5 separate regions of the Homo sapiens genome follow, and regions 2, 3, 4 and 5 are each reported to be linked to region 1. Evidence: microRNA targets listed by miRTarBase, many of them from high-throughput screens and not tested one by one. Region 1 holds a microRNA gene; each other region holds the end of a gene's coding sequence.
Evidence for each region. The annotated mature microRNA hsa-miR-6817-3p reads UCUCUCUGACUCCAUGGCA and lies in region 1 at 3,442-3,460, shown strand. An mRNA with a match to its seed (bases 2 to 7 or 8) in the 3' UTR can be bound and repressed. Matches are read on the target gene's strand: a 7mer-m8 pairs with bases 2 to 8, a 7mer-A1 pairs with bases 2 to 7 and ends in A, and an 8mer does both.

Region 2: the mRNA of HSPA6 is a reported target of hsa-miR-6817-3p. The part of its 3' UTR that is shown has no 7-base or 8-base seed match.
Region 3: the mRNA of RDX is a reported target of hsa-miR-6817-3p. Seed matches in the 3' UTR shown: 7mer-A1 at 1,585-1,591, 7mer-A1 at 1,587-1,593, 7mer-A1 at 1,589-1,595, 7mer-A1 at 1,591-1,597, 7mer-A1 at 1,601-1,607, 7mer-A1 at 1,603-1,609 and 2 more.
Region 4: miRTarBase lists CD86 as a target of hsa-miR-6817-3p. Seed matches in the 3' UTR shown: 7mer-A1 at 3,823-3,829, 7mer-A1 at 3,821-3,827, 7mer-A1 at 3,819-3,825, 7mer-A1 at 3,817-3,823, 7mer-A1 at 3,815-3,821 and 7mer-A1 at 3,804-3,810.
Region 5: the mRNA of FBXO2 is a reported target of hsa-miR-6817-3p. Seed matches in the 3' UTR shown: 7mer-A1 at 412-418.

Annotation. Positions count from the first base shown.
Region 1 is chr22:25,452,251-25,457,354 of GRCh38, forward strand. MIR6817 (microRNA 6817) reads left to right here and starts at 3,396; the gene lies at 3,396-3,461. It also overlaps the pseudogene CRYBB2P1. RefSeq lists an enhancer at 3,463-3,566.
Region 2 is chr1:161,525,904-161,531,007 of GRCh38, reverse strand. It overlaps HSPA6 (heat shock protein family A (Hsp70) member 6), which reads right to left. Exons shown (of 1, transcript NM_002155.5): 1 at 4,114-5,104. The coding sequence ends at 4,418. TRL-CAG1-6 (tRNA-Leu (anticodon CAG) 1-6) reads left to right here and starts at 584; the gene lies at 584-666.
Region 3 is chr11:110,227,117-110,232,220 of GRCh38, reverse strand. It overlaps RDX (radixin), which reads left to right. Exons shown (of 14, transcript NM_002906.4): 14 at 188-2,780. The coding sequence ends at 352. Among named protein-coding and RNA genes, the nearest start is that of RDX, 67 kb to the left of the region's middle.
Region 4 is chr3:122,119,121-122,124,224 of GRCh38, reverse strand. CD86 (CD86 molecule) reads right to left here. Exons shown (of 7, transcript NM_175862.5): 7 at 3,089-4,787. The coding sequence ends at 4,691. Among named protein-coding and RNA genes, the nearest start is that of CASR, 62 kb to the left of the region's middle.
Region 5 is chr1:11,643,854-11,648,957 of GRCh38, reverse strand. FBXO2 (F-box protein 2) reads left to right here. Exons shown (of 6, transcript NM_012168.6): 6 at 130-571. The coding sequence ends at 264. Among named protein-coding and RNA genes, the nearest start is that of FBXO2, 8.0 kb to the left of the region's middle.

The sequences.
Region 1 (5,104 bases):
ATAAAGTCAGTGTTATGTCTTCTTTGCCAAAAAGTCTATTCAGGCTCTTTGCCCAATTTTGGTTCGGTTACTAGTTTCTCTTTTGTTTAGTTTTTTTGCTAGTTACTAGTGTTAGTAGCTTGTGCCTTTTGGAAAACAAGGTCTTATCAGCTGTATGTTTCCCTAAACTTTCTTCTCATCTTTGCGATGCTGTTTGTTCGTTTCTTCTCTGCCCCCTCCTCTCCCCACGACAGAGTCTTGCTCTGTCACTCAGGCTGGAGTGCAGTAGCATGATCTCAGCTCACTGCAACTTCCGCCTCCCAGGTTCAAGCAATTCTCCGGCCTCAGCCTCTTGAGTAGCTGGGATTACAGGCACGCACCACCGTGCCCAGCTAATTTTTGTATTACTAGAGACGGGGTTTCACCATGTTGGCCAGGCTGGTGTCAAACTCCTGACCTCGTGAGCCACCATGCCTAGTCTAAGATGCCTTCTCTTTGGGTTCGTTTGTTCTGTCCTGTGCAGCAGCTCTAATGTTGTACTTAGTCTCTCATGTTTATATTTGCATTTGTTGCCAGTGATTTCAGTGTTCCATCCAAAAAAAGAGATTGTTAAGCCATTTTATTGTCTATGCGTATTTTCCCCCTAATTTTTCCTTTTCTTTTTGCGACCTGTGTGCACAGTGTCAAGTTTCCCCCAAATATATGCTTATCCCATGTTTTTTCCTTGGAGTGTTTTGCTTTCAGGATTGAATTTAACTGTTCGATTTATTTTTTGTAGATTTTTGTGTATTGGGCAGCATAGGGGTGCTATTTCAATCTTTTGCACATGACTACCCAGTTTTCTCAACTGGTGTGCCTTGGTGTGCTTTTGAAAAATGTGTGCCCTAAATATAATTTTGGGTTGATTACTTGGCTCCCTCATTTTGTCCATTCGGTTGTCTTTCTATATTTATGCCAGTCAGTGATTGCCTGGATGACTGTAGGTTTTGTTTTATCTATCTATCTATCTATCTATCTATCTATCTATCTATCTATCTATCTATCTATAATATATCCTAATCCTATTATTATTATTATTTGAGACAGGTTATTGCTCTGTCACCCAGGCTGGAGTTCAGCAGTGCGATCTTGGCTCATTGCAGCCTTGAACCTCCCGGGCTCAAGTGATCCTCCCTCCTCAACCTCCCAAGTAGCTGGGACTACAGGTGCGCATCCCCATGCCCCACTAATTTTTTTGTACTTTCTGTAGAGGTAGGGTTTTGCCATGCTGCCCAGGCTTCTCTCGAACTCCCAGGCTCAAGTGATCTGCCTGCCTTAGCCTCCCAAAGTGCTGTGATTACAGGCGGGAGCCACTGTGCCCAGGGCAACCCTGTTTTTTTTTTTTTTTTTTTAAATCAACTTTTATTTTGATTAAATTGCAGCTTAGTTACATGTGAACCTTTGATGACACTGAGGCTTGTGGCCACTGACCCCGTCACCCAGGCAGTGAGCAAAGTGCCCGTCAGGTGGTTCTTCCGCCCACACTCCCTTTCTGCCTCCTTTTTTCCATCTGATAGTCCCCAGTGTCTATTGTTTCCATCTTTATGTTCGAGTGTATTCACTGTTTAGCTCCCACTCATAAGTGAGAACATGCAGTATTTGGTTTTCTGTTCTTGCCTTGGTTTGCTAAACATAATAATCCCCAGGTCTATCCATGCTGCTTAGGACATGATTGTGTGTTTTACTTATGGCTGCGTAGTATTTTTTGGTGTGTATGCGCCACATTAAAAAATCAAATCCACTGTTGCTGGTCATCTAGGATGCTTCCACATCTTTGTTCTTGTGAATGGCACGACCATGAATGCACGAGAGCATGTGTCTTTTTGATAGAAGGATTTATTGTCTTTTGGGTAGATACTAAGTAGTGGAATTGCTGGGTCTGATGGTAGTTCTGTTTTAAGTTCTTTGAGAATCTCTACACTGCTTTCCACAGTGTGAACCTGTTTTCACGTTCCCCAAGGTAGGAGCGTTCCCTTTCCTTTCCTGCCTCGCCAGCATGTTGTTTTGCTTTTGGAAAAATGGCCATTCTGACCAGCGTGAGATGGTATCTCATTGTGTTTGTGAGTTGCATTTCACTGATGATTAGTGAGGTAGTGCATTTTTTCATGTCAGTTGGTCACTTGAACGTCTTCTTTTTCTTTATTTTTATTTTTTATTTTTTGAGACAGTGTCTCACTCTGTTGCCCAGACTGGAGTGCAGTGGCGTGATCTTGGCTCACTGCAACCTCCGCCTCCCAGGTTCAAGTGATTCTTCTGCCTCAGCCTCCTGAGTAGCTGGGATTACAGGTGCCTGCCACTATGCCTAGCTAATTTTTGTGTATTTTAGTAGAGACGGGGTTTCACCATGTTGGCCAGGCTGGTCTTGAAGTCCTGACCTCGTGATTTGCCCGCCTCGGCCTCTCAAAGTGCTGGGATTAAAGGCATGAGCCACCATGCCTGACCAATTTTTTGTATTTTTAGTAGAGATAGAGTTTCACTGGTCTCGAACTCCTGATCTCAGGTGATCTGCCCACCTCAGCTTCCCAGAGTGCTGGGATTATAGGCATAAGCCACAGTGCCCAGCCCCTTGACAACTGTTTTGTAAGGAACCATTGCCTGAAGTAGAATTGCTGGATCAAGACTACTTTTCCAAAAGAGGATAATAAACATGATCTCCTCTTTTGTTAATGACTTAGATCATTCCTCTGAAAAGCCATTATTGCACATTGCTGAAATGTTCGCCTCTGCACTGGTTGGTCCCAGAATGCTAATCATTTTGAGATTTGTGCCTTCTTTCTTCTATTTTCTGCTTTCTTCTATTAGCCATGCCCGACCTGAAAGCCATCCCTTCCTCTTTAATGTACTATTTTTCTTCTAATGTGGATCTACAAAAACAGAGTTTGGGCAGAGTCTAACAACAGGAACAAGAGAAGAAACAGATCCAAAGAGAGGGGCTTTGGGCCCAGAGATGTTCTAGAGTCAGTTCTCAGTGGTGAAGGCTGACTGTGCATCTCTCTTCCTAACTTCACTTGCAGCCGTGTCGTATTGATAGCTTGAAATCTGCCACAGTGGGAGCATTTACACCATGGAAATTGGCAAACGCTGCAAATCAAGAGTGTTAATTTTCGTTTTGTTTTTTGAGAGTTGGCTATTAACTTACCAGCATACTATTGGCTTTAGTGCATGGCGTCTATATATTGGTATTTGTTGCTGGGCCGTTATTTAGACTGCCTTCTTATTTCTTAACTGTGTTCCAGGTGGGTAAAGGCAGCATAGCACTGAGTTCTAGATAACTGAGGGGATTTTGCACTTGGATTTGCTGTGCTAAGGTTTGGGTGGGGCTATTACATCTTGCCGGGCTGGGCAAGAGTGAACCCTAGGGGTCAACATCAGTAGCCAGGATTCTGCCATAGGAAGCTTGGAGTGGAACTGACCTGCCCCCTTTCTCTCTGACTCCATGGCAGCTGGGTGAGCTATGAACAGGCCAACTGCAAGGGCGAGCAGTTTGTGTTTGAGAAGGGCGAGTACGCCCACTGGGACTGGTGGACCAGCAGCCAGAGGACAGACTCAGCAGCCTGAGGCCCATCAAAGTGGTGAGCCCCCTGCCATCATCCTACTTTCTCTCTCTGCCACCTTGGAGCAGGAGGTCCTGGGACCAGGAAGGAGCCCGCCCCTCTAGCATTGTGCCCCTTCTGATTGGTGAGGAACCTCCTCACTGGGTGACCTTGCAAAAGTCATTTTACTTCCCTGAGCCTCAGTTTCTTCATCTGTAAAATGGGCATATTGGTATCTACTGTCCTGAGGTTCCAATGTGCTTATTAGCTTGAGGGTTGTCACACTGCAACTCCAGAAGGCTCCAATCACAAGACTATGAAATGCTCCAGAGGGCACTATTCACATTCTATTTTAGGTGGTTGGTGCCCGCCCCCCGCGCCCAAGGGTTGGGCAACTCCCGTCATTGCTCAATAACCAATAGCCATCAGAAATACTACAAGAAATTATGAGTTTGGGGCTGGAGGAGAAGGTGGTTTAGCTCTTCTTCAAGACTCGTGCCAGTGTGAGTTTTCAGTGCTTCTGAGATCCTGATTCTTACTAGTGTGTGAGAGTGTCAACTCTCAGGAAGGGGACAGGGCCCATCACTGCTCAGTTACACTCTCAAACCCTCCAAGCCCAGTCTAGCTCCTCCCAGGACCTACTGGAAGGTTGGAGAACACTGGACTTTGCACCCCACAGACCTGGGTTCCCAAGTTGGCTGTGCTGCTCCCAGCTGTGTGGCCTTGAGCACGTCATTTGACCTCTCTGTGCCGCACTTTCCTCATCTGCTAAATGGCATAAGAGGATTTTATGTCTGAGGGATAAGGGTTTTATGTGTAAAGGATGAGATGAGATAACTAAGGAAAATGTCATAGGGACAGGAGGATGGGAAGAGATGTAGAAATGAAGAAAAATCAAAGTATCTCAGGTGCCTATTAGAGGCACAGTTAGCCTGTGCATGTGTGTGTGTACATGTGTGGGTGTGCATGTGTGTGCACGTGTGTGTGTGCAAGTGTGCACGTGTGTGCACACATGTGTGGGTGTGCATGTGTGTGTACATGTGTGGGTGTGCACGTGTGCGCGCGCGTGTGTGTGTGCAAGTGTGCGTGTGTGCCTGTATGTGTGCACGCTTGTGTGGGTGTGCGTGTGTGTGTATGTGTGGGTGTTCATATGTGGGTGGGTAGGTAGATCGTAGCCACCATTTATAAAAGAGAAACTTGAGGAGGAAAAAATGACATTTCAGAATCAAACATTCCCCAAAGTGTTGCAGAGTGTCTGTTACATGAAAATGGCCCAGTAGAAACTTAACAAACGGCTGTGATCCAACAGCAGTGGTCATAGACACGTAGTGGGTGCATTGGGAAGAGAGTGATGTGTGGGACATGCTGATCCCAACTCTGGGGCATGAGCATGGGGTGGGAAGGCCAACCCTGGGCCCCCTCACCCATACTCACTTCCCCCCATCCTCTGCCAATAGGACAGCCAAGAGCACAAGATCATCCTCTATGAAAACCCCAACTTCACCGGGAAGAAGATGGAAATCATAGATGACGATGTACCCAGCTTCCACGCC
Region 2 (5,104 bases), not on the chromosome of region 1:
AGCTAAGCCCTCCATTGGTGAGAACCGATTCTTATGAATCAGCCCCGCCCCGCAAACGGCGCGGGGCGGTGAACGCAGAAGCCACCGGCTCTGGAAGCTGGAGGGCGGAGCCGGCTCACAGCCGAGAGAGAAAGCCGCAGTTGAGCATCGCCGGGGGATTTTCCTCCGCCGTCTTCTCTTCCACCCCGCTCTCTTCATGTCCCGTAGCTCCCAGCTCCGCAGCTGTTCGAGACTCCGCACTGGATCCGCCGGGTGTCGGATTCAGCAACAGTGATTGGTGCGGAGGATCCGAGGGAGACGGGCCGACACAGGGTCTACCTTGACATGGCTCGACCCCTCTACAGAAGCAGAGGGGCGCTCGAAGAGTCGCCAGGGAAAATGGAGCCTTAAGGATTAGTTTGGGTAGTGAGGAAAGAGGAAAGAGCTGTCGGAGCCTGTTTCATTTTTCCCGCTTTGCGACAAGGTCTAGAGAGAGTTACAATTTTATTTGAAACAGTAAATAGACACATTAATGTGACCTGATAGCGTGCACCATCAGTATATGATAAAATTAGGAGAAATTAGGAAGCATGGTAAAACATGTGTCAGGATGGCCGAGCGGTCTAAGGCGCTGCGTTCAGGTCGCAGTCTCCCCTGGAGGCGTGGGTTCGAATCCCACTCCTGACAATATGTGTTTTCCGTCCTTACTTTTCCTCCTGATTTGAACCAACCAGCAATTATGTTTGAATTCTTAGAGAAAGACTTTTCGATCGGTCAACACTGCCTTTTATCCTAGGTATCTACATTTACGAAAATTATTTGTGCTTCTCTGCACATATAGAACTATATCTATTTTTCCTGTATTGTAGGCTGGAGTCTGGTCTATGAAATCAGGGAGCAGTTGAGACTAAGATTAACTTTGGACTCCAACTTCCCAGTGTCAATTTATCCATTCTTTTATTCAACAACAATGTGTTGAGCCCTTTCTGTGCGTCAAGCACACTAAGGCAGGCAGATACCATCTCCTTTGACTAAACAAGAGAACGCCCTCAACTCAGGATCCTTTAATTTGCTCTACAGTCTTAGCTGGGTTTTTTTTTTTAACGCTAACGCAGTAGTGTCAAACTTTGGTAAGGATCAGGTTCTCCCACCGCCTTGCCCCGCTCCCCAGCCTTTTTTTTTTTTTTTTTTTTTTTAGACAGGGTCTCACTCTGTACCCCAGGCTGAAGCACAGTGGCTCAATCTTGGCTCACTGCAGCCTCCGTCTTCCCGGTCCACGCGGTTCTCGTGCCTCAGCCTCCCAAGTACCCGGGGTTCGCGCCTGTAGTCCCAGCTACTCCGGGAGCCTGAGGCGAATCTCTTGAGCCCAGGGGGCAGAGGTTTTTGTGAGCCGAGATCGGCTGACTCCAGGCTGCACTCCAGCCTGGCGTACAGAGTGAGACCCTGTGTCCAAAAAAAAAAAAAGTAACATGAATAAAATCTACAGTTAGTCATTAATGTTATACCAATGCCAATTTCTTAGGTTTGATAAATATAACATGGTTATGTAAGGTTTTAACATTAGGGGAAGTAGAAAGGATATAGAGTAATGACTTTATGTAGTATCTTTGCAACTTGTCTGTTCATCTAAAATTATTGCAAAATCAAAAATTCTTTTAAAAAACCAACAACTTGAAAGTGGTTGCCTGTGAGGAGTAGGACCTGGGAAGGGGGCAAGAAACTGCTTGTACCAAGAATTGATTTTTTTAATAATGGGCATGTGTTCTGATTTAATTTGTTCAAACTTTTTTCCCCCCCTTTGGAACTGGGTGACATAGTTGTGATTACAATAATCAAACTAAGACTACATACAATATAAGGATTTTTAGATACCTAGTATACAAGAAACAGTCCCCAAAGAAACTAAACCAAAATGATCAACAGACGTTTAAAAGTAAATAAAGTTTGTTTATATTTCTCTATAGAAAAATAGATTGCACTCAAATGGGAGGATCTGAGATGTCACAACTAAACACGATAAAAATCTTTCTTCTTATATTCTGTGTGTGTTGGGTTTTTTAAAAGGATAAAAGGCATACTATCAAAATACTAAGAAACTATAAAAAAGTGAGTACTATCAATCCTCTTGAGAAGTTCAAACAGGTTGAGGGGGGTCAATGTTGAGAATTGAGATGAGATTCAGGAAAGGAAGAATGTAATGCAGGATGTACGTGTTACTCCATCTCTCTCTCTCTTTTTTTTTTTTTTCAGGTTCCTTCCATGTGAAGCCAGGCTGCGTAAGACTTGGGCCAGGGCCAGGAAAAGAGGGCAGTTAAAAATGTGAAATGACAGCCAGGGACAAGTGAGTTGTTAGTGTAACCTTCTCTCCGTCTTTAAAAAATCAACCTAAGAAATATAATGTATAATGTAGCATTGTTCTAGCCAAGCTCTCCCATAATTTCTGAGATAAAAATAAATCTCCCAATGCCCATAGGGCAAATATACTCTGGATTGGATTGACTGGGAACTAACACAAGTTTATCCTTTTGATTATTTTGTTTACACCAACAAAGCAAAGGCAAATATCCTTGCTTTTATATTGTCATTGACTCAACTGGCAGTAAAGTTGTGCCTAAGGATATTTTGCAGATTCCGTCACTTGCTATAAAAAACACACAACTAGCTAGGCGTGGTGGCTCACACCTGTAATCCCAGCACTTTGGGAGGCTGAGGTGGGCAGATCACCTGAGGTCACGAGTCTGAGACCAGCTTGACCAACATGGTGAAACCCCATCTCTACTAAAAATACAAAACTTAGCTGGGTGTGATGGCAGGCAACTGTAATCCCAGCTACTGGGGAGGCTGAGGCAGGAGAATCGGTTGAACCCGGGAGGCAGAGGTTGCAGTGAGTTGAGATCGCACCTTTGCACTCCAGCTTAGGCGACAGAGCAAGACTCTGTCTCTGCAAGTATACAATAAAATGCACACTTTTTCTCACGGGGCTCAGCATCCAGCTGTGTTTCAAAGGAATAATATGACCAATTTCAAAACATCTAGGGGAAGGTCTGGTAATAAGTGGAGTTATGGCCTATTTGTAAGGTGGCATGCTGAGGCTCTAGACTCAGGCAGGACAGGGTTCTTCATTCCAGCCTTCCTGTCCCCACTTTATAGCTTTGTGTCTTTGAATAAATTGTTTAACCTCTTTGAACCTCATAATGCTCATCTTCAAAAAGAAGATAGTATTCCATAATGCTGCTGTGAAGATTAAGTTAGATTGTGTATGTCAAGTACCTGATACATAGTTATCACCCAACTAACAATTAATAGTAATTGCTAATGTTTGTTGATAGTATATTATACACCTTTCTTCTTTGCCTCTTACATATATTAATTAATTGAACCCTCACAACAGTCTGGAGGTTGGTACTGTTATCATCATCATCATCCCCACTGCAGGGAAGGGGAAACTGAAGCTTGGAGAGTTTAATTTGCACAGTATATAAAGTGGCAGGGCTGAAAATCTATAGAGTCTTGTTCCAACATCCTCATTATGCCATGGGCAGAAACCACATGGGATCATACTATTTCTCTGACATAGATAAAGTCAATAGTAACTTTAATCGTACCACCAGATCTACTTCCTCTGACATATACCATCCTCCAGAGTCCAGGACTCAGAGTCTTTTCTCTAAAAGAACAATGGATAAAGTGACATGATTACAAACAGCTAATAAGCATGTAAACTATTTGTTAGTGTTATTAAAACAGCTAGACTGACAAACTCAACCAGGTTCCTATGACAAAAATACAGAATTTGAATCATAGGATCACACATGGAAACACTGCCAGTACTTAAGTTTCTCTTCATTCTCTGCTTTTCCAATTCCACATCTCTCCCTCTCTCTTCCTGCATTGTAAGTCTCAATCCTCTCCTCTTTACCAGCCCTAACTCTTCAGTACTGTTCCAATGTATTGGCCTCAAATTCTTTTCCAAATCCTGCCTTCCCCTATAGGAATCATGTACACGGTCTCAGGAATATTCTTCACATTCCTCCTTCAGCACCCACCCCAACATTTTCTGCTTCTGAAAGCCTTTGGGTACTTTTGTACTTCGATTGGTTGGAATGAAAAACAAGAAGGAGTTTTAAAAGCTTATTTAGGTCTATAACTATATTTTACATAACAAAATTCATACATGCAAGTAACAAAGTACACAAAATATAGGTGAAAGCAATGTTAAAGTGCCACACAAGTTTTAATAAATTAATGACTTTTTATTTGAAGCAGAAGAGGATGAACCGCCCTCCCCGCAAAAAGTCAAAAGACTTCAGTTATCCTGGGAAGAAAGTTCTAGCTTTGGAGGGAAAGTTCATCTCTGAAGGGCAGGATCATAGAAGACAGTCTAGAAGGCCCATAGCATAGCCCTGACAGTCACAGCTGACTTATCACGAAGGGCCATTCAATCAACCTCCTCAATGATGGGGCCGGTGCTGGGGTCCCCCTGGCGGGCTTGAGTGCCACAACTGCTGCCCCCAGGGACACCAGGCCCCCCATAGAGCCTGGAGAAGATGGGGCGACAGATTTGCTCCAGCTCCCTCTTCTGATGCTCATACTCCTCCTTCTCTGCCAGCTGGTTGTGCTCCAGCCAGGCAAGGACTTCCCGACACTTGTCTTGCATTTTGCGCCTGTCCTCTTCGGGAATCTTGTCCCTAAGGCTTTCCTCTTGCAAAGAACCTTTCACATGGAAGACATGGGCCTCCAGCGAGTTTTTGGCAGCCACTCTGTCCCTCTGGGCCTCATCCTCAGCCTTGTACTGCTCGGCTTCATGAACCATCCTCTCCACCTCCTCCTTGCTCAGCCGGCCCTTGTCATTGGTGATGGTGATCTTGTTAGCCTTACCTGTGCTCCTGTCAGTGGCTGTCACGCTCAGGATGCCATTAGCATCAATGTCAAAAGTCACCTCTATCTGGGGGACTCCACGTGGGGCAGGAGGGATGCCACTGAGTTCAAAACGCCCCAGCAGGTTGTTGTCCTTGGTCATGGCCCTCTCACCCTCATACACCTGGATGAAGACCCCAGGCTGGTTGTCCGAGTAGGTGGTGAAAGTCTGGGTCTGCTTGGTGGGGATAGTGGCGTTCCTCTGGAT
Region 3 (5,104 bases), not on the chromosome of region 1:
GGAAAGGCCATGTGTATTCCTCCCTTACCACTGCCACCACTATTACTAAAACAAACTTATACCTAAAGAAAAAGGTTTCACAGTGGAAATGATTTGGTATATGTATTTTTGCATCTTAAAGCCATTTTCATAAATTTTTTTAAATCTAAGAAAAAAATAATAGTTGTACTTTTTATTTTTTAAATAGGCATTAAGTTCAGAATTAGCCCAAGCCAGAGATGAAACCAAGAAAACACAAAATGATGTTCTTCATGCTGAGAATGTTAAAGCAGGCCGTGATAAGTACAAGACTCTGCGACAGATTCGACAAGGCAATACAAAGCAGCGTATCGATGAGTTTGAAGCAATGTGAGAGCTGTTATTTTGCATATATGTTCTTCATAAGCTGAACCACCAACAGAGAAAAGCAGGCCTTTGCAGATATGATGGAATGCATCCCACCTTGCCAAAGCACTTACACCAGTTTGACTGTGCTAGCTAAAAGACAAATTTAAGGGGAGCTCTTCAACATTAAGGCAGTATGATATCATGCTTGGTTTTCTTTTTTCTTTTGGTCCAGGGAATGGAGAATGGTGTTCCATTGCCTCTTTTCACATTTTTTTTCTTTTTCTTTTTTTTTTCTGTTGAAGATTAACACTAATTATCACGTCTGACAAATGTGTATGTGTGGTTTCAGTTCTGTGTACATTTTAAAGGATAATGGTGAACATTTTAATGGGTTTCCCTTGCCCTTTCCATATTTAACCTATTTCCACATTCTCTCTCACTCACATTTTCTCAGTGTGCCCTTCTCTTATCTGCCATGTCCATAGCCATAATTCCACCATCATACAGATCAGGCAGTGTTTAAAATGATGGTAGGTAGCACAGTGGACAGTCTTTGATCATCATGTAGAATATGGCTATGAATCAGGAAAGAGATTAGAACATTTAATAATGTATGTACAGCTGGTGCTTAGTTTTTTTTTAATCTAAATTTAATTACCTTATTGGATATTTGATATTTGGTTATTTAATCACAGTCATCTTTAACAGCTTACACTGATTGGTGTTTTATCTCCTGTGATCCTTTGATGGCTTTTTTTGCCTACCATTTCACAGAGGTTTAGACAGCAGTAGTAGCTCCCTAGGAGAGTTTACTGATGAAACAGCCTCTGCAAGATTTTAAAAGTTTTGTTCTTTTATAGACTGATTTAGAAAAACAAATGATTAGTTAAAAAAAGAAAATATACATTTGTTGGTAACTAATGTTATTTTTTAAAACCTGGACCTTTTCTGGAAGGGCAGCATATAAAAACATCAGTCCCGAGGAGGGGACAACAATACTACCTCACTACTACATCTGTGATGACTGGTTGTTCAAACACAATGGAGTGTGTAAGGTATATGTTTTATAATTCATAACCATAGCCTCGATCATCAAGAAATACTTTCGAAATTTCATTTTCCTTCAGAATATCTTAAGAGTGCTAAATTTTTAACTGCCTTTTTGTCGAGTCAAACTGTGGGATTCTGATTTGTATTAAAATTGTAAGCTCCTCACTGGTATACTATCATCCTGGAGGGGTGTTGTATGGCTGAGCAAGAGAGAGAGAGAATGAGAGAGAGACTGTGTGTGTGTGTGTGTGTGTGTGTGTGTGTACTCTGTGTGTGTATGAGAGAGAGAAATGCTAACCTTGTAGCATGTGAAGAATGTCTGTACCTTGATACGATAGTTACATAATCAGTATATTTGGTTTCTAGATCACTGTGCTTATTTTGTTTCAATCTCTGACTAAAAATACTTAAATTTGGTTTGTTAATTCTTATTTTAGAAATTATAATTTTAGTTTATATTAATTTCGGTTATAGCTTACTGAAGAAATCTTTCCAGTTAGAAGGAGGTTCTAATATTCACATGTTCTAATACTTTGTTTATTGTAAAACAGCTAAATTTGGAGATACGTAAAGCCTTGTTTTCTCTGTGTGGTTCAGCTACTTTCCATTTGGTATTACACAGTCAAATTTACATTTATCTATTAAAATTGCCATTTTATTAAACATTTTCATGCACAGTAGATTCAAGTTGTGTCTGAAAATATCTCTTGTGCTTTTTTGATTTTGCTGACTTTAAAAGGATTAATCTGGGCAGACATTATGTAAAAGAAAGGTTGCGTTTAATATATTTTTTGAACTTTGTAGGACAAAACATAGCTGGTTAACCTTGAAGTGACTGTTGTACCATGGTTGTGCACATGCTTCAGAATCCTATGGAAGAGAATATTCCTACTTGCAGTACATCAAAGGAATGGATGGTGGACCCTACTATTCATGTTTTGAGACATAAATGTTCACTTTAAAGCAATTGCATAATAGATAAAAACCTGAACTTTCATTGGATTTTTGTTAATTTTCCTCATTTTGAATTATGTGCACTACCATAGCTACATCAGTTTGATACAGTATTGAAAAATTATCAGTTATATTTTGCTGTTTATGATCTATTTGTAGATTAGGATTAAAATGGATTTAATCCATTTTTAAGGCTGTGTGAATTTTTCTAAACAAGAACCATTTGCAATATGGATTTCTTAGAGATTAAACCAATTATAACTTATTAGCAGTCGCGAGCACATGTTCATATAGTCAATGTAAAAATACACTAATGAGTATTTGGTAAATCCCAGTAGGCTTTTACCATTAGCATAATTTTGTGTTGTACAATTAAGTTACAATTACATCTCTAATTTTGGATAATATTCATTGGTTAACAATAAAGTGACAAAAGCTCATGCCTTCAAGGTCCACTGTTGTTATTTAACATGGATTTTTTGTATGTTTCTTGAAAATTACAATCTTTATCACAGCCATGAATCACCACAACTTAAAAGTAAGAAGTAGATAGGAAATAATTTTAAATCCTCATAGATCTACTCTTTCCCCGATACCTCTTTGGTATGGAAGTAATAGTGATTAATTCTGTGGAAAAGTTAAATTATTAAATTAAATTGACTTTGTTGACAACAAAACGTAATTTAGGGTTTCCAGTCATTGCCTTTATTGTATAGTGGTTAGTTTCTTTTTCCTGAGGAAGATACAGTTTCTTGTCATTGATTGATCTCACTATTAACATTTCAACATTCTTTAAAGAACTGTATGCTAAGTATATTTATGTAAGTACATGTTCTTATTTTGAAGCTGTATTATAGAACAGTTACTATAAATCTAGAAATTGCCTTTTTCAAGTCTTCTTACTAATTTTTAACTTAAATAAGTGATAAATCTATAAAAATAGTAAAAGCTAGATTTTTTTGTTGATAGTAATATTTAACTGTCACTTTATTATTTCTGTTCTCAAGGACACATAGTGATTTTTTTACTCTGATCCTGTCAGAAAATGGAATTTTAAATAATATTTTGCTTTATGTCTAATTAGAGTTTTAAGAACTGGAATGGCCCCTTATAAAGTTATGTTAGATTTTATTGGAAGTCACTCTTATCATTAGAAGTGTTTCAATATTATTGTGTTTTTTTTTAAAATCCCACTGTATTCTGTCCCAGTATTGATCACCGTGTTGATTATTAATGTTTTTAGAAATGAAAATAATTTTTTAAATTCACAGGCATCCCATTTTACATATGCACAATAAAAACAATTAGTCTTAAAAGTTAAAGCTGGAAACTAAAGTCTAAGGGATTACTAACTTTAGCATTAACATACTGAACTAATGAGTAAACCAAAGCTTAGATACCATTAGTAAGAATAAGAGAAAACAGTTCAGTGTGGAGCTGTACTGTTAGGTTCCTCTCTTAAGTCTGTTCTAAATGAACAGAACTTTAGCATTTTCTTAGTTTGTACCACTTCCATTTTTTTAACCTATCAAATATTCTAATGTGGTCTGTCAGATGGAATGACAGTATTCTAGCTCATACAAAAGCTCTTTGGATTCTGCAAATGTGTTTGATAACTTTATGAAATATTCAGGCAGCCTGACCCCCCACAGTCTACGGTAGTAACTAGGAAAAGCTGGCTCACAATCATGTTCCATATGTTAAAGATTAACACATTCTTATCCTTAGCTTTTCCAGTTAAATAATTTTAACTCCCAATTTTTCCTTAGTAGACCTACTTCTTACTATGTCCATGTATCAAGATATAAGAACTACCATTTTCTCTGTGGAAAGATCATGGCTGTATGGTTCAGCTACTTTCCATTTGGGTAGTAGACACTCAGATTTACATTTATCTGTTAAAATTGCCATTTATTTCATCAATACTTTGATTTCCCTTAACCTCTGTGATACAAGAGTTTTCTGATTTGGGGTTATATGGACTACTTTAGGAGTTGAAGTATTTCCTACACAATTTTTACATGAAAGATCTTGACTAAGGTGATACCCCATGACACATCCTTTGCATTCAGGTTTATGTTTTGGCTGTGGAGATCCCTAACTACTTGATGGCTCCGGGTTCTTATTTAATGGTCGTCATTTAGCCAATACATTTTTATTAAGAGCTGGCTATATTCAAGGACTTAGAAGCAAGATTAGGATGATTGTGACCCTTTGTTTTGGCCTATATAGGGGACTTCAAATATTAACTTATCTTAGCCTTAGATCATTTGCATTTATCTATTACAATATCATTTCTTTTAAAATGGCAATGCCATATTGTTGATTCCTGTTATTTGTATGCCCAGATTCCTCCATGTTTGTAGCTAGCTAGTTGCTTCTATCAGTGCAACTTATTTTTACCACCCTATTCTAATTGTTCTTCACTTTTATTTAATCATTATTTTAAATATTTGGATTCATTTTTATATTTATGCATGCCATTTAGTTTGCTCCTAAAAATAGTGATACTGGTTTTAGTTTTTTACTTACTAAATCAGTATAGCCAAATGTCCATCTTCCTAGTGGTAATATGCGATCAGAATTTCTGAGATTATTTATGTGACTATTTTTGGAAAAGTTTCTTTTGATAAAACATGGATTTATTATATGAAATTCTTCTTGCACTGTATTACAATATATGCTATGATATCCCTTTTATTTTTTTCAACTTAAATATGATGTTTTATATTGTTTTAGACTTACGAATCGTGTTTTTCAGAATCATAAGGGA
Region 4 (5,104 bases), not on the chromosome of region 1:
GTATGAATAAAAAAGGTCCTGAATGAGAAAATAAGAGGTGGGTGTGAAAGTGGGAGGAATGCTTTCCTGGCCTAGTGATGACTGATAACAGAATGAGGCAGGAGCGAAGGGGTGAGCAGTGGGTGCTGAGGGAAAGGTTGAATGCAGTCATCAGAGATGACTCTTTGCTTTCAAGCCTGGGTTAATGTATTTGTTCCTTCTCACACTGCTAATAAAGACACACCCAAGACTGGTTAATTTATAAAGGAAGGAGGTTTAATTGACTCACAGTTCAGCAGGGCTGATGAGGCCTCAGGAAACTTAAATCATGGTGGAAGGGGAAGCAAACATATCCTCTTTCACAGGATGATAGGAAGGAGAAATGCCAAGCAAAAGGCAGAAAAGCCTCTTATAAAACCATCACATCTCATGAGAACTCACTCACTATCATGAGAACAGCAGCATGGGGGTAACTGCCCACATGATTCAATTACCTCCCACTGGGTCCCTCCCACAACACGTGGAGATTATGGGAACTACAATTCAAGATGAGATTTGGATGGGGACACAGCCAAACCATATAATTTCACCCCTGGCTCCTCCCAAATCTCATGTCCTTACATTTCAAAATACAATCATGCCTTTCCAACAGTCCCCCAAAGTCTTAACTCATTCCAGCATTAACCCAAAAGTCCCAAGTCCAAAGTCTCATCTGAGACAAGGCAAGCACCTTCCGCCTATGAGCCTGTAAAATCAAAAGAAAGTTAGTAACTTCCTAGATACAATGGGGGTACAGGCATTGGGTAAATATACCCATTCCAAATGGGAGAAATTTGCCAAAACAAAGGGGCTACAGGCCCCATGCAAGTCCAAAATCCAGTGGGGCAGTGAAATCTTAAAGCTCCAAAATGATCTCTCTTTTGTCTCCATCTCTCACATCCAGGTCATGCTGATGCAAGAGGTGGGCTCCCATGGCCTTGGGCAGCTTGGCCTCTTTGGCTTTGCAGGGTACAGCCCCCTCCTGACTTCCTTCATGGGTTGGCATTGAGTGTCGGTGACTTTTCCAGGCGCATGGTTGGTGGACCTACAATTCTGGGGTCTGGATGATGGTGGCCCTCTTCTCATAGCTCCACTAGGCAGTGCCCCAGTGGGGACTCTGTGTGGGGGCTCCAACCCCACATTTCCCTGCTGCACTGCCCTTGCAGAGGTTCTCCATGAGAGCTCTACCCCTGCAGCAAACTTCTGCCTGGACATCCAGGTGTTCCCATACATCCTCTGAAATCTACGGGGATGTTCCCAAACCTCAATTCTTGACTTGTGTGCACCTGCAGGTTCACTGTGCTGAAGCTGCCAAGCCTTGGGGCTTGCACCCTCTGAAGCCATGACCTGAACTGTATCTTGGCCTCTTTTAGCCATGGCTGGGATGCAGGGCACCAAGTCCCAAAACTGCACAAAGCAGCAAGGCCTCGGGCCTGGCCAGGAAACCGTTTTTCCCTCCTAGGCCTCTTGGCCTGTGATGAGAAGGGCTGCTGTAAAGAGTTCTGACATGGCCTGGAGACATTTTCCCATTATCTTGGCAATTAACATTTGGCTCCTTGTTACTTATGCAAATTTCTGCAGCTGGCTTGAATTTCTCCTCAGAAAATGGGTTTTCTTTTCTATCACATTGTCAGGCTGCAAATTTTCCAAACTTTTAAACATAAGTTCCAATTCCAAACCATATTTTTGGGAATACATAAAACTGAATGCTTTTAACAGCACGAAAGTTACATCTTGAATGCTTTGCTGCTTAGAAATTTCTTCCACCAGATACCCTAAATCATCTCTCTCAAGTTCAAAGTCCCACAAATCTCTAGGGCAGGGGCAAAATGCCACCAGTGTCTTTGCTAAAACATAGCAAGAGTCACCTTTATTCCAGTTCCCAACAAGTTCCTCTTCTCTATCTGAGACCACCTCAGCCTGTATTTCATTGTCCATATTACTATCAGCATTTTGGTCAAAGCCATTCAACAAGGCTCTGGGAAGTTCCAAACTTTCCTACATCTTCCTGTCTTCTTCTGAGCCCTCCAAACTGTTCCAACCTCTGCCTGTTACAAAGCTCTGCCACTTACAAAGTTAACAATGTTGGGTAAATTACTCTGACTTATCTCTGTGTTTATATTTTCTCATCAGCATAATGGGCATAATATTCCATTACCTACGTCACAGGGTCATTGTGAGGATTAAATAGGATAATGAGTTTAAAGGTTTAGATGAGTGACGGGTATATGGTAAATGTGAAATAATGTTAGCTAGTACTATTCTGCCTAATGACCTCTTTCAACCTTCTTTTTCTTTCCCCTAGTCTTAGAATACAGCAGTTCAGAGAATTTAATATACAAAGGAGGGATGTTCTCACCAAAGGGCATGTTAATATTTCATTCAATCTTTAAACAGATATGTTTTGAGAGAACAAAAAAGAATTCTGAAAAGAATACATGATAGCAGAAATAAAAATACAACAGAAGTTAGAAGATAAAGTTGAGGGAATCTTTAAGAAATACAACAAAAGACAAAAAGATGGACAATAGAATAGACAACTATCTTAGTTGTCTGAGGATCCATTGGAGAGAAATTAAACACATTCCTGCCCTCACAGAGTCTAGGTAATTTTCTTTTTTCCAGAGTTTTCCTGGCTCCTCTCACATGCTGTATGTGTATATATGCATTTATTTTATAATCATGGTGTTTTCAAGGAATATTTTTACATTAAGCTTTTGTTTAATGTACATGTAAGTACATAATTAAAAAATTACACACTACAGGTTACAAACTCAAAAGTAAGCTTCCCTTCCTTATTCCAGATTTCTTAGTTGTCCTCAAAAACAACCATTCTTACTTGATTTTTTATGACTTATTACTGAGATAAACATATAGAAGTATACAAGCCTCCTTTCTCAAATAATGGTAGGGAAAAGGGAGGAGGAGAAGATACAGGATGCGTGAGAGGCTTCTAGCCATAGAGATGTAAAGAGAAAGGAAGTACATTCAGAGGACAGAGCAGGGAACATCAGACCACAAGGGTTGAGTAGTACTCTTGAAGCCAAAGCAGAAAATGTAGACTTTTAAATGAATGTAACAAGCATTTATTAAAAACTGTGCTGCACAAAACATGTTAGAAACTAGCCAGGTGCTAGGAGTCTAATCAAGGCAGGGGCAGGGTAAAAACATGGGAATATTACATGGACAAGCTTGTCTAGCATGGCAGTCTATAACCCTTGAGGGTTTACATAAAATAAAGGAACATTTTTGTGGCTCAGGCTCCCCAGAGTTCTCTTTATGTTTGGGCAGAGACTGCCCCATCCCTTAGTGATCCCACCTTAGAGCCAGGTTTTCAAAGTCATTTCTCCCAGTATATCTGTCTCTGTATGCAAGTTTCCTCTGGTTGCCTTGAGCAAAAACAATCATCCAACTCAAATTTGCTAGCCCTATGCTGGGCCAGCCCACGTTCCCGTAGGACATCTGTAGGCTAAGTAAGCCCCGGGTGATCTGTGTCTTGGTCTTCCTAATTCCGTTGCAGCTCTTCCTCTCTCAGCCAGGAGTGGAAAGTCCTAAGCCTCCTTCCATTCATCCCATTATCAAGGTGATGGCTCTCCCTCCCCAGCTCTGCTTCCAGGAAGATGACATCCCAATAACTTGGGTATCACCAAAACCCCTCCCTGACCACCAGGGAAACTGCTGTCTGTCTTATGTCCATTTGGACAGACTATCCATCTGTTGCTTGTTTCAAGACTTGTTGATGGGGTGGACAGACCAGACATTTCATGTATTTCTGTGGATCAAGATCTCTCTTTTTTCTCTCTCTCTCTCTTTTGAGTATTGTGATCTCTTTTGGTTCTTTCACAGCTTCCCCAGGCCATCTCACTAGTCAGTTCTTCAAGAGAAACAGGGTTCACAAGCTCTGGCATTTTCCTGTTTATTCAGTTCTCTCCACTATGGCTTGTTGGGTGGGGCAAGCCTCCTCAATATTAGCAACAGCCCAGATAGAAGTGGCTCCAGGTTCTATCTCTGCCTCTCCTAATTTCCCCAAATTTAGGTTGGTCTGCTCATTGTTGCCTGTACCCTAGGCCACCGTTTTCCTTACTGACCCTGACAGAGGGATGAGAACTCCTTAGCAGGGGTAGACTTTTCTCTAGAGCATAGTAATCACACTATTACAGTACATAGATCTCTATGTTTCAAGATATTAACACTATAAGGTCATAAATACATAAGTCCCACCCAGACTGAGGAGGTAGTTGTTTAGTCACAGGTACACACAAAATTCAGTGGGGCACCAGCTTAGAATTCTGGGCAGATAAAAGGCAGTTTTCCAGAAATTGAGAGGTCTATTTAAAAAAAAAACACAATCTATGAAATTAAGAGAAGAATCTGATCTGGAGGAGGTATTGGTCCTAAATTTTATTTCCAGGTCATGAGCCATTAAGCTGGGCTTGGCCCATAAGTGTGCTCTGAAGTGAAAAGAAGCAGTAAGAGAATTAAAGTCTCCTCTTGGCATACGGAGCAGAGCTGGAGTTACAGGGAGGCTATTCCACTTAGAGGGAGTCCTGGAGCCCCCTTATTACTCATGGTAATGTCTTTTTGCCTTCTGGAAGAAATCAAAAAGGTTGCCCAGGAACTTACAAAGGAAAGGGTAGAAAAAATGAATACTTGTATGGGCTTTACTCTTTAATTAAAAACATGTATCACTTTTGTCGCATGAAGATGTCTTCGAACTTTTAAAAACACGCTGGGCTTCATCAGATCTTTCAGGTATATGGATTTTTTCTCTGGAGAAATAGAAGAAAAGATTAGGTGATATTTCACATTTGAGCTACTTTCTTTTTCTAGATTTCAATGATAGGGCAGAATAGAGGTTGCCATTGGAACAGCAATGAGGAGAAACAAACTATTGAAGAGAAAGGTGGAGAAAGCAAGAGAAAAGAACCACGGTCTACACTGTCATCTATGCTTCAAGAGCTACCCTTTATTTCTGCCTGGCCCTTCCCATGCCCTCTGCCGGTTCTCTGCTGCCTGCCCTCTGCAGGCTCTTCCAGACCATTTCTGAAACTGAGTGTGACAGGGTAGGCAGGATTTCAGCACCCTT
Region 5 (5,104 bases), not on the chromosome of region 1:
GGTGGAGAGAGTTCTGAATACCGCGGAGAAACCGAGTGGGGGAGCTGCAGGTCGGTCGGTGTACCGGGGTGGGGCGGCAGGAGAGGCCTCAGGACCTCCGAGGCTGACTCTTGTTACCTCCACCCCCAGATCTCCCACACCTTCACCGACTACGGGCCGGGCGTCCGCTTCGTCCGCTTCGAGCACGGGGGGCAGGACTCCGTCTACTGGAAGGGCTGGTTCGGGGCCCGGGTGACCAACAGCAGCGTGTGGGTAGAACCCTGAGCGACCCTGCCTCCACTCTCCCCCAGCTGCCTGGAGGGGCAAAGGTCGAGGGTAGATAGGCCTTAACTTAGTCCATAGCGTCCTCACCTTCCCCAAGCCACACATCCTCCTCCCATCCCTTGCTCCGATCCCAGCCCCTGAGCAGGGAGAGAGAAGTTTTGTTGGCATAGGTTTGCTTAGGTAGCCGGCTTCTAGAATGTAGATCCGTGAGGGCGTGAGCTTGGACTGGACCCACTGCTGATTCCCTGCACCTAGCACAGTGCTTGCCACAAAGTGGGCTCTCAATAAATATTATTTGTCCAAGGAAGGAATGAATGAAAAAATGGATAAACACTGCTCCCTTCCCATCCTTTTCTGTCTCCTGAGGGCCCCCGGCATAGCCTGGAAAAATACTTGGTAGGGCTCCAGCTGCTCTGGTTTCCAGCGGACCTTGGGCCAGTATGGAGTCAGCTGGGCCCGGCCTTGCCAGGGAGGACAAAGCTGGGATTGTGAGACCAAGGAAGGTTGAGCTGAGCCTGGCGCCTGACCGACACCCAAGCTGCCCAGAGGCCAGAATAGGGCATGTTGGCGGGGGGGCTGCCCTCCAGGCCTCTCTTGGTCCAGTGAGTATCCTAAGCCTTGCTATGACCCCCCATCCTTTACTAAAGGCAGAGTGGGGTTGGGGGTGTACCAGTTCTCAGGGCCCGGGTGACCAATAGCAGCATGTGGGTAGAGCCCTGAGCGGCCCTGCTTCCACCCTCCCCCAGCTGCTTGGAAGGGTAGAGGCTGGGAGTAGATAGGCCTTAACTTAGTCCATAGCGTCCTCACCTTCCCCAAACCTCCACAGCCCTTCATCAAGCTGGGCCCCTAGGGCAAGGTGTCAGTTCCTTTGTCTGATTGGCAACTGGGGTGGGTGTGGACTGTGCTAGGGTCTAGGGTACCAGTTCTCTTGGGCCCAGGGATGGAGGTGAGGGGCCTGGGGTAGGGGATGGGAGGTGGGGATGGGGAAGCACAAAAAGGATTGGTTTGGGGTTTCTCTTAGTTCGTGCCCACCCCCTGGAGTCATTAGCATCTGGTCTCATTGGCCCTTTTCCAAACCTGGCCCAGAGGTTGGCCCAGGCTTTGGCCTGGGGGAGGGGAGGTGGGGAGGGTCTTGTGCCAGACTCTGTGCTCCGGCACGCTCCTTCCGGCCGACCCAGCCCCTTCCAAAGACTGTCAGCTGCTGGTCCTAGGGGTGGGCATTTGAAGGGCCTGGAACCCTCTGCCCTCCTCTCCTGAAATGGAGACCAGTAAAATCACCGAGAGTCTCCAGCTTTGCCTCGGTTCTGAACCCTGATGCTACCTGCTGTTCTGGTGGGATTGCAGGGTTCAAGCTGGGGCCTGCCTGCAATTGTTTATTCATTCACTAGTTCATTTATTTACAATTCCCAGAGCCCCAACCCCAGGCCAGGTCATGTGTGGGGGCCCTGAAGTTACGGTGGGGAATAAGAGACTCCTTCCCAGGAAGAATCAGCAGCCTGGCCACATGAAGGGTGGGACCCAAGGGGAGGGGGAGCCAGTGTCCTGGGCCCTCCAGTGCAGTGGTGGAGATGCAGCCCCTGCTCTGGGGGCATCCTCAGTCTGACAAGGGAGACAAAACCTTGACTTCAGAAAACTCTCAGTTTCAAGGGAGAGGCATAACCTCTTCCATAAGGATGCCCTCCGTCCTGTCTGGGGGATTTCAGTCTGCTGGGGAAGGCACAGTCCATGTTCACCCGAGCTGCCAATCAGACAAAGGAACTGATGCCTTGCCCTCAGGGTCCAGCTTGATGAAGGGCTATGGAGGAACAGGCTCACCCCATGAGCTCCCATGCTTAGGGGTGGGAGACTAAGGGTGGGCATGTGGGGAGCCAGGTTAAGAGGAGATGGGGTGAGTGGAGAAAGGACCGGAGCCTGCACTGGGCTATGGGAGGAAACTGAAGATGGAGACAGGTCATGGGCATGAGGGGCCAGGAGGCCAGGTAGGGCCTGGCCCTTCAAGGACTGGAGGTCAGCATAGGAATGTGGGGGGTGTGGAATGTGCTGCAGGTGGAGGGGAGCGCCCCTGAGTTTCAGGTGCGCATGGGACGTTCGGGAAAGAGGCCCATAAAGAGTGTGGGGCCCTGGGCTGCCGATGCAGGTATAGGAGTTGCAGTGTCTGTGGCCAGCAACCAAAGCCAAGGGCGGGAACAGGTGCAGAGTGAGGCAGGAGAGGCCTCTGGGCTCACGACAGACCGGACTGACCGGGGACAGGGAAAGCAGGGCAGCCAGGAAGGCAGGGAGATGGGTGGGAGGAAGGTGCAAGACCAGAAGGCCACCTGCAGCCAAGAGCCTGAGGAAGGAGCCAGAAGCCCTGCCCAGAAGCCCAGAGGCTCTGAGCCTGCTGTGGTCTCTCCCCAGAGCATGGGGCCCTCAGAGGAGACCGGAGGGGCCTCAGGCTCACTCTTGCTGTCACTAGAGGGACATCGGGTACACCAGTGGTGTTTAGGTCAGGAAGATAAGACAACTGCTTCTCAGCCTTCAAAGGGCTGTGTGAGGTGGGCCAGAAGGCTCACTGGGCATAGGGCACGTCCTATCACACCACCCTACAGTCCAGTCAGGTGGGACAGGGGAGAGGGCATGGTCATCCCTTTTACGGTTTTCTGGCAAGTGACACAGAGTAACTGGAGAAGCAGAAGCTCCCATCCAGGCACATCTGGCTCTTAAGTGAGTGCTCTTAACTCCTCTCAGCATTACTGTCCCCTACCCTGGAGGACAGAGCTGGACCCACGTGTAAACGTTATAGGATGGCATATACCAGCTGCCTGTAAGGAAAAACCTGTGTGGCGTCCAGCAGGGGGCACCCCAGGGCTGTCTCTAGGACAGTGGGGACAGTTGAAGCGAGAGACAGCAGATAGGGCTTTCATGTCTCCTATGATCCTATTTTTTATTTAAAATTTAAAAAAAAAATTTTAGAGACACGGTCTCACTCTGTCACCCAGGCTGGAGTGCAGTGGTGTGATCATGGCTCACTGCAGCCTCAATTTTCTGGGCTCAAGCGATCCTTCCACCTCAGCCTCCTGAGTAGCTGGGATTGCAGGCACGTGCCACCACACCAGGCTAATTTTTATTTTTTATAGAGATAGGGTCTTGCCATGTTGGTCAGGCAGGTCACAAACTCCTGACCTCAAGCAATCCTCCTGCCTCGGCCTCCCAAAGTGCTGGGATTATAGACGTGAGCCACCGTGCCTGGCCAGTTCTTCCTAATCATTTGATATTTATTGAGCACCTACTATATGTAAGGTAGGGACAAAACAAAGTCTCTGGTCTCTTGGAATATACAGTCTAGATGGAGAAACATAACACAAGCAACTAAATGAGTGAACAAGATAATTACCCACATGAGATAGCCCTTCATCAATAAGCCAGGCACTACTCTAAAAGCTTTATCTATATTAATTTGTCATAATAACCTCACGAAGTGGAAACTGTGATTACTTCCATTTTTACAGATGAGAAAATTGGGCCAGGTGCAGTGGTTCACACCTGTAATCCCAGCACTTTGGGAGGCCAAGGTGGGTGGATCACCAGAGGTCAAGAGTTCGAGACCAGCCTGACCAACATGGTGAAACCCTGTCTCTACTAAAAATACACAAAAATTAGCCTGGGTAAGAAGAGCCAAACTCAGTCTCAAAAAAAAAAAAAAAAAAAAAAAAAGAAAGAAAAGAAAAATAAAATTGAAGCACAGAGAGATTAAGCAACTTGCCTTAGGCCATACTGCTAAGAAGTGATGGAACTGGAATTCTTTTTTTTTTTTTTTTTTTTTTTTTTGGTACGGAGTCTTGCTTTGTCTCCCAGGCTGGAGTGCAGAGGCGTGATCTCAGCTCACTGCAACCTCTGCCTCCCGGGTTCAAGCAATTCTCCTGCCTCAGCCTCCCGAGTAGCTGGGATTACAGGCGCCCGCCACCACACCTGGCTAAGCTTTTTTTTGTATTTTTAATAGAGATGGGGTTTTACCATGTTGGTCAGACTGGTTTTGAACTCCTGACCTCAAGTGATCCACCTGACTTGGCCTCCCACAGCGCTAGGATTACAGGCATGAGCCATCACGCCAGGCGGGAACTGGAATTCTACTCAGCCACTTAGGCACTTGGCCTCTGTAGTGTAGAGAGTGAGGGCAGGAGTGCTACTTTGGTTGGGGTGATCAGGGAGGACCTGTCTGAAGAAGTGACTTTTTTTTTTTTTTTTTGAGATGGAGTCTCACTCTGTTGCCCAGGCTGGAGTGCAATGGTGCTATCTCAGCTTACTGCAAACTCCACTTTCCGCATTCAAGCGATTCTTGTGTCTCGGCCTCCCGAGTAGCTGGGATTACAGGCGTGCACCACCATGCCCAGCTAATTTTTTTTTTTTTTTAATAGAGACAGGGTCTCACCATGTTGGCCAGGCTGGTCTTGAACTCCTGGCCTCAAGTGATCCACCTGCCTTGGCCTCCCAAAGTGTTGGGATTGCAGGCATGAGCCACGGCGCCTGGCTGGAAGTGACACTTGAATCACATGATGACGAGAAACCAGCCATACGGCTCTGGGGAAAGAGCACTGCAGAGGCAGCCAAAGGCTCCGACATGGGAATGAACTTATTCACAGGTCAGAAAGGCAGCCAGCATGGCTGGAGCAGTGAGCAAGTGAGGAGGTGATCTGACGTGAGCTTGGAGATGTAGGAAGGTGACCCAGAGAGTTTCCTGAGGACCTACTATGTGCTCTGCCCTATAAGATATAAATGCTCTAGGAAGCAGATATGATATCGTTTCCATTAAGGAAAAACCTTTGCTCTGTTCAGCAGGAGCTAGGGATGGGGGTTTAGACAT